Linked DNA regions of Homo sapiens: regions 1 and 3 are each linked to region 2. Evidence: fine-mapped expression QTL. A gene starts in region 2. Each other region holds a variant in brackets. All regions are shown on one strand. Distances are between the middles of the regions.

Region 1 (2,674 bases), 31 kb after region 2:
GTTTAATTTTCTTGCGTAATGAAAATTTATTGAGTACTTTCTGAGTACATAGCATTGGGCTAAGGACTATTGACGTATGATTTAATTCATTCATTTATTCAACATGTGTTTATTGAGCGCTGCTGTAGGTATTAGAATATCGTAGTGAAAAAAAAAACAGATAAAAATCCCTATGCTATTGGAGCTTACATTCTAAGGGGAAGAGACAGGCCATAAAAAAGTAAACATAGTAAGAAGTAAATCATAAAGTGTTAGAATGTGATAAAATGTTACTTAAAACTATTTTAAGTAAGATGGTTAAGGAGACTCATCGAGAGATGCCTGAAGAAGGAGCAGGAGTTTTACTATGTGGATACTGGGAGCCTCACATACAGGCAGAAGGACTAGCCAGTGCAAAGGCCATGAAGTATACAAGATGTATCTGAGGAACAGCAATGAGGCCAGAGTGGTCTCAGCGAAGTGAAGTTGAGGACTAGGGAATGAGGTCAAAGAGAAAATGACCTTGTAGGTCATTTCGGGACTCTGGCTTTTACATTGAGTGTGATAGAAAGCTACTGGGGTGTCAGGGGCAGAGGAGGTATAGGATTCATATTATAACCAGATCACTCCAGCTGCAGCATTGAGAATAGATCATAGGAAGGCAAGGGTGCAAGGGAGAAGGATGCAAGAGAAGAGGCTCTAGTGGGAATCCAGGGAGAGCCCCAGTGGCTTAAACGAAGATGGTGGCAGTGGACATGGAGACATGTGAATATATTTTGGAGAAAAATTCAGCAGGATTTCCTGATGTGTTGACATGCGGTATAAGAGAAAGTGTGGAATTAGTGACTCTAAGGCTTTTGTTGTTATTGTTGGGTTTGGTTTGGGGTTTTTGTTTGCTTTTTCATTTTTTCCTGGGCAACTGAAAGGATAGAGTTATTTTCCAGATGGGAAGATTGTGGGTGGAAACTGTTTGG[G/C]GAAGAATATTAAAGTTTGCTTTCGGTGACTTGAGTTTGATCCCCAAGCGAAGACATCCAGGAGGCGTTGGACCTGAGCATTTGGAGTTGGGAGAGGTATCTGGGCTGGGGGGGCATACGAGGGACCATTGGGGTACAGATGGTGTTAAAAGCCAGAGACTACATGAAATGGGTGAAGGCGGGGTGCAGATGGAGAAGTGAAAAAGTGCAAGGACCAAGCTCTACGGCACCCCCAGAGGTCTGGGGGACAAGGAGGGATCAGCAAAGTAGAGTGATGAGGAACTACAGGTGAGGTGAAAGGAAACTCAGGGCAATGTGGTGTCCTGGCAGCAAGTGTGGTGAGGATGGTGAGGAAGAGAGCAAGGAGGCCAGTACCAAATGCTGCTAGGGGTCGAGTTAAAGGAGGACTGAGAAGTGACCATTGGATTTAGTAATGGGGAGGCCATTTGTTACCCTGACAAGAGTAGAGGTGTTAAAGCCCACTTGGATGGGTTAACAGAGAAGGGAAGGGAGGAACTGGAGACAGAAGAGAGGAACAGGCAGTAGTTCATAGGGAACTGGGTCAAGAGGGTTTTTTTTTTGTTTTTCATTTTTTAAGTGAGAGTGATAATAGCATTTTTGTGTGAAGATGAGAATAATACAATGAGAAGAGGAATTGTTGATGCCAGAGAGAAAGGAGAGCTGCTGGAGCAATGCCCTAGAGTAGGTGGGATGAGATGGGATCTATATGCAGGTGGGAGGTTGGCATTAGATGGGTGCACAGACAGGCCAGCTATTGTGTCAGGTGGGAGGCGGCACATGTGGGTGATGATGCTGGCAGGTATGAGTCTAATGATTTTCCTGATGGCTTCAATTTTCCCTGTGAAATAGGAAACTAAGAACTGGAGAGAAGATATCAGAGGCTTAAGGAGAGTGGATAAGGTATTATGTGGATGTCTAGGAGAGTGGGAGAGTCCATAGACCAGGGAAATGAACACAGTTGCCTGGCTGCACCAAGCACTCATGATGTTCACTATCACAAACATAAAGTGGGACTGGTGCATGTAGTTATGAGTTTTTCGCTAGCCACGTTTGGCTGTTCGGGTGCAGACACAGTTTGCTAGATTTAAACAGGGTTGAGGTGTTGCCAAGTGGGAAAGCTACAGAGAGACAAAGAAATAGAGATTAGATGCAAGGGGGCCATCATGATAATTGCCCAGGTAATGAAAGGAAGCTGAAAAGGGAAGATAGTGAGGGTCAGCAAAAGGTGGTGGGATCAGTGGATGGGTGCTGCCAGTGGGTTGAAGGTGGTGGGAGCAGTGATGGGGCTCCCAGTGGGTTGAAGGTGGTGAGAGAAGAGGATGGTCGTTCCCAGTGGGTTGAAGGCTTGTTGGAGTTGGGACACTGGGTGGTATGAACTGGAGAGTCAGGAGGTAAGTGATCAGATGCTGGGATGGATGAAAATGAGAATATGGATGGCAAGGTGGTTGTTCACCCCCAAACATGGCTGGAATACATTTTTTTGTTCCTTTTTGCAGTTAGATATGGCCAATGCTTAGTTCTGGCAAAGGAAATGTGGATGGAGATGATGTGCCCAGTTTCTAGGCCTGGCCCATAAAAAAATCATCTCATGCAATTCTATACCCTTTTTCTTTTCTGTCTGCCACTGAATGCAGAGAATCCAGCCAGGACTGTGAAGCCCCAGGGAATGGCTGCACTTCAAGTCAGAAGGAGCCTGGGTC
Region 2 (2,674 bases):
TCCTCTGTACTCTCCCAGATCTCTGCTTCCTCTCTCTTCCTCTCTCCCTTTCTTACATTGTTATTTTTCTTTCATGTGGCCTCTCTCTCTCTTTCTCTCTCTCCCCCGCCAATCAAGGAGATGGAATGTTCATTAGGGACATGGACTGCATGTCCTCCCCTCCCTTTATCCCCTAGTCTTAGTACAGCAATTGGTCACATGATTAAGTGCTAGATACAACTTTGCTAAAATGAGTGCTCAACAACATCCTTCGTCATCCATTTGACCTTCTTAGCAAATGTCAATTAAAAAATGAAATACCGAAGTGAGTCAGAAGGAGAGAGGGCTGGTTGAGATGAGACAGCTTTGTATAGTGGGTGCTGGAGTTTGACCCAATGGGTTTAAGTTCTGGCTAAATGATGACCTTGGGCAAGTTACCATTCTGTGCTCAGTTTCCTCTGTAAGATGGGGATGACAATAGACCCTCTTTAGAGGGTTGCTATGAGAAAAAAATGAGATAATAAAAAATATACTTAGGAGAATGAGTACTTAATTAACATGACCTATTATTGTTCCCCCAGAAGATTAGTTCTGCCAGGTAAGAACTCGACTGTACACTCATGAAATTTGAGGCAAGTCTTATTCTTTCATGAGATGAAAACTGAGCAAGAGCAGAGAAATCCTTTTATGTCTTTCTCCTCACTTTGTTCAACGTGGGGAACAAGATATGTAGGACTATAGGATGTTTCCTGTAGACAACCTGAGCATTACTGAGGGAGAGAGGGAGTGTGTGAATCTTGTGCCCTGGCCTGACCACACGGCTGCCTATTTCACCATGTCAGGGGGCTGCCAGCCTCTGAGGCATTGTCCCTTTTGACATCTTCAGAAGCCACCCATCATGAAGACTAAATTCTACATCTGTCTTCTCTAGAAAACAGAGTAAAAAATCAACATATATTAGGCACTTATTGCATACCTATTATGACATAGACAATCTCATTTAATTCTCACAATAATCTCCTAAATTAGTTGCTACCATTATCTCAACCTCACAGAGGAGGAGACTGAAGAACAAAGCAGTCAAGTACACTGCCCAGGGTGTACTGGTTAGAAGTGGTAGAGGCAGAATTCGCATCCACCCCTGGCCCTGCTGCCTCCTCTGCTCATGATATCTGTGCCCCAGGGTTCCAGATGGGACCATGCATCCACGACACCCACAAGGCTGTCCATTCCTACATGGTGCTCTTCTGTTCTGACCTCCTAGTGAATGGTGATAAAGGTTAATGACTATTTGGACTTTAATGTGTGTGCCTATTGTTTCAAAGGGAGAATCATGATTTAAAAGAGGCTTAGGAAGACTTCATGAATTTAGTTGTCAGAAATATGACTCTCCCAAGGCTTGGGGTGAGTTGAAAGAGACCTCAACACAAGCCCATTAGCTTGATGCAATGTCCTGCTTAGGGCTTGCAAGAGTCCAGTGTAAAGGCAAATGAAAGACCCAGGTGCAAAAATGGGTGGGCATGTGTTTCCTTTCTTCCATCAGATGGGGCGTCCTTACTCCCAGTCTTTCCAGATGTTCTTCCCACTCCTCAACTGCTCCTGGCTCAGAAACCCTGCACACCTGGAAGAAAGTGAGAACCAGTTTTTCAACAAACACATTGCACAGACTTATTGTGAACCCCGGGTGGAATCAAGCATCGGAGGAAGAGAACGTGGTAAGTTTTATCACTCTACAGAGCACTTGAACTCTGCCTTCTTAGAAGAAATACCAGTGTTCTGGGGTATCTCTTGTGCCCAGGAAGCTCATGGGAGCATTCATTGCCTCAGTTAGGGGAAATCTCCAGAGAATATTTCTCTCATTTGAAGTAGAGATTCTAACTCATGCTTAGAGGATCATTTATACAAGATTCTTTTGGGAGCCTGGTTGTTTAACATCTGCTTTAGGGCAGGAGTATTTTTCTAAAAAAATACTTTATTTCTTTCTTATTAACAGTTGTCTACCCTACAAAGTTCCCGTGTGCAAACAGGATGGGTCTTAATTAGGCTGCAGAAGTTGTTGTGGAAATCCATTTGGCCTCAGGCCTCTGTATATGGCATGCTAAGACACAGAGAAGAATTACTCAGCCTGGGTGCCAGCTGAGATGCTCTACCCAGCTCTGCCCTGCCTTTTTGGAAGCTTTCTCTGTTTCCTTACTTTTGACATGTGGGGTTGTGAATTTGAGAGCTTCCTGAGATGTCAGCCATGAGAAGCCATATCTGTGTAATGCTACCTATGTAGTCTTCCAGACTTGAAAATAATCAGACGTATAAGTATTTGAAAGGCCAAACAAGGAAAACTATGAGCCAAAGAAAGACTGAAACAAGATGTGACAAGTCTCATGTAAATTGTTCATAATTCTGTTCTGATTCATAGTGGAGTTAAAATAACCTGTAAGCCCAACACTGCAGCTGGTTAACAGAGCACTGGTGTGTTTGTTTCCTCCAGTGAGGGCAGGCCAAGTGGAGGCCTGTGGGTGGGAGATCCCTGCAGATAAAAATGACTCTTCAAGGCCAAGTGGCCTGTTGGCTGAGGGTCTCAAAGATTTGGTAATCAGAGTTGGAGTATAACCAAAGAAGAGGCTGAGGAAAATCTGGATAGACCTTTCTGGGGGTGGTGGCCCCTTCTTTGCCTTTGCCCCACCCATTGCAGATTGTC
Region 3 (2,674 bases), 89 kb before region 2:
TAACAAAACATTGAGTATGAGGTAAATCCACATTGGAGCATCTATCTGAAATTATGCTATAGAGTAGTAGTTTTTCTTTTTCCTTAAGTAGAGATTCTAAAGTAAGTTTTTAGAAAGCAACTGACAGCCTGGGCAACATGGCAAAAACCAGTCTCTACAAAAAAATACGAAAAATTAGCTGGGCGTGTGGGCAGGCATCTGTAGTCCCAGCTACTTGGGCTGAGGTGGGAGGATGTCTTGAGCCCGGGAGGTTGAGGTTGCAGTGAGCCCAGATGGCGCCACTGCCCTCCAGCCTGGGTAACAAAGCGAGACCCTGTTTCAAAAAATAAAAAAGCAACTGAGCAACAAAACGAACCTGAAAAAGAAGGACTCTAGTAGTTTTAGTAATAGTCTGCTCCTAATTACAAGTGAATTATCTACAGTAAATCCATTTCTGCTCAGAAGTTTTGTCATGGAGATATTTTCATTGTAATACGATTTATTGTTAGGAGCTTGGCTTTTATACTACCAGTTTGTCTTGTTCTACAATGTCTATTTTAGGAGTTTGGTTTTCATAAAACAAGTGAAGAAAATGTGAAGTACAGAAAGTATAGTTTTGTGTTTAACTGCTTTAGGCTTTATTCTTCCTGGTTCTGTTAAAAAAAAAAAAAAAAAAAGAACAACCCTGTGGTGTATTATAAGATAAAATACAATAAAGTGGAAAAATAAGATCCTCAGGAGATAATACCAGAGGAGTAATTTAAATGCTAATATGCTTGCATTTGTAAATCCAAGGTCTTGGAAACAGGATGACCTAACTGGCCAAGAGTTTTGTTTGGCCTGCTTAGTATTTGTGTGTGGGTTATTTTTTGAGGTAACATTCTCATATAAAAATGCAGCTCTCCATCTTCTTTTAAATATGAATAGCCAGCCTTAGTGTGCCAGCATCCTTAGTGGCAATCCTACTTAATAATGGTTGCCACTTTAAGATGGAATATGTGCTTTCTTATTCACCACAGCCCAGGACACTTCTGTTTTTCCAACACCTTGCATTTGTGACTCTGCATTATAAATTATTAAAATTGGTAAGCTCTAACTTTGGTCTTGAGCTTTCTGGTGGCCACACCGTTAATAGAGAAATGCAAAAGTTTTCTAAAGAGCTGTTTTGCATGTGAAAAAATCCTGTGTCTTATTCTCAGAATTTTATTTGATTAGCATCATCAGTTCATCATTCTTGATTTCCGGATTGTTAGATCTACCCTTAAAAGTTTTTCATCTGCATAAAATTAACCACCTTATCATCTTCAGTGTTTTCATATGAAATATTCTTCATAAATTATACATTTAAATTTTTTATCCCAAGATAAATGGTCATACTAAAGTGCTTAACTTTTTTT[A/T]AAAAAAAATCTGTATTTCTTAGTTATGCCCCGTGGTGCCCTGCTTGTCAAAATCTTCAACCGGAATGGGAAAGTTTTGCTGAATGGGGAGAAGATCTTGAGGTTAATATTGCGAAAGTAGATGTCACAGAGCAGCCAGGTACTGTAAGTCTTTGGTTAGTTTTGTTTCTTTGCTGTTTGGGTTGATATATTTATCCTTTTTTCTACATTGCATAGTCTTAATTCTACCTTTCTTTAGGTTTTGAAAACCTAACAGTCTGCAGCTAGTTAACCTGACTTGTCCACCTCCCTGCTGGGGGCTCAGTGTGCAATGGTTGCAAAATGGAGATTCCCTGGTTGTGTATACACCTCATTTCTTGAATGTGTTGCTTTAAGGGTTCTTGAAGACATTACCCTCTTTTTATTCTTGCCCACATAACTGCCTCTGATTTGTTGTTCTTTGCATCCCAGGCCCCAGACTAGTATGTAAGATGCCTTTGAGAAGTCCTAGGACACTGTGGTTCAGGTGAACATTGGCCAAGCCACATTTGCATCCATACCAGGCTTCAGAATAAGGAGCATGTGGTTGAGTGTTTTTCTGGAGTCAAGGTCACGTTCCCTGACAAAAGAAGACCTGAATCTCTGAAATTGAGTTTTAAATTTAGTACCTATGATTTGAGGATGTGGGCTTCTAAATATAAAGCCCTCGTGGTTGTGAGGTCAAGTGCACTCCTGACTTGGTCCCTGGACAAGTGGCAGGTCCTGCCCTTAAGGAGGTTCCTTCCACAGACCAATCTCATCTTACCGTTCTCGGTAGTCACACTACCCTTGGATTCTTGGCTGTCCCATCCCAAATGGTAATAATAGGTAATATTTATCGAGCGCTTGCCTATTATAGCACTCTTCCAAATATCTTGTGTTTATTATTTAATCCTTATACAACCCCGTGAAATATGTAATGTCCCCATTTCACAGATAAGAAAACTGAGGCACAGGTCAATTCTCTGTAATATCAGTGCTTGACACATGGCTAACAATAAATGTTAGCTGCTATTATTTTTGCCTGTCTCATGAAAGATTCATAGTATTTTCCATTTTTAGCAGCACCATAAACTGCCTTTGTTTGTTGAATGTCAAGTACAATTCCATTGGATTTTAGATCTAAGACCCTATTACCTTGTGCTCTCCCATGAGCACAAGGTGCTCTTATTACTAGTAGTCTTAATTTTGACAGTGATATAAATGTTGAAGTGTTTTTATTTAAAAATGTATTCAGTACTCTAGTTCTACATACTTTTTAACTGAGATAATGTGCAGTA

Which allele goes with the higher level. Positions count from the first base shown, and alleles are read on the strand shown. Sizes are in standard deviations (SD) of each study's normalised expression. Not every link is listed here.
As copies of C replace G in region 1, the expression in unexposed skin of the gene that starts at base 1,523 in region 2 goes up (small effect, 0.17 SD a copy in GTEx).

Evidence for each region.
Region 1: its variant is fine-mapped to the expression of LINC00640 in unexposed skin (GTEx, PIP 0.94).
Region 3: its variant is fine-mapped to the expression of LINC00640 in whole blood (TOPMed, PIP 0.98).

The regions. Positions count from the first base shown.
Region 1 is chr14:51,362,755-51,365,428 of GRCh38, forward strand. LINC00640 (long intergenic non-protein coding RNA 640) reads left to right here. Exons shown (of 5, transcript NR_038358.1): 5 at 2,609-2,674. Among named protein-coding and RNA genes, the nearest start is that of LINC00640, 31 kb to the left of the region's middle. The variant G/C (reference allele first, on the strand shown) is at 954.
Region 2 is chr14:51,331,871-51,334,544 of GRCh38, forward strand. LINC00640 (long intergenic non-protein coding RNA 640) reads left to right here and starts at 1,523. Exons shown (of 5, transcript NR_038358.1): 1 at 1,523-1,694. LOC124900595 (a long non-coding RNA gene) reads right to left here. Exons shown (of 3, transcript XR_943854.3): 3 at 1,529-1,600.
Region 3 is chr14:51,242,457-51,245,130 of GRCh38, forward strand. TMX1 (thioredoxin related transmembrane protein 1) reads left to right here. Exons shown (of 8, transcript NM_030755.5): 2 at 1,400-1,515. It overlaps LOC124900346 (small nucleolar RNA SNORA70), which reads left to right and starts at 1,634; the gene lies at 1,634-1,768. The variant A/T (reference allele first, on the strand shown) is at 1,377.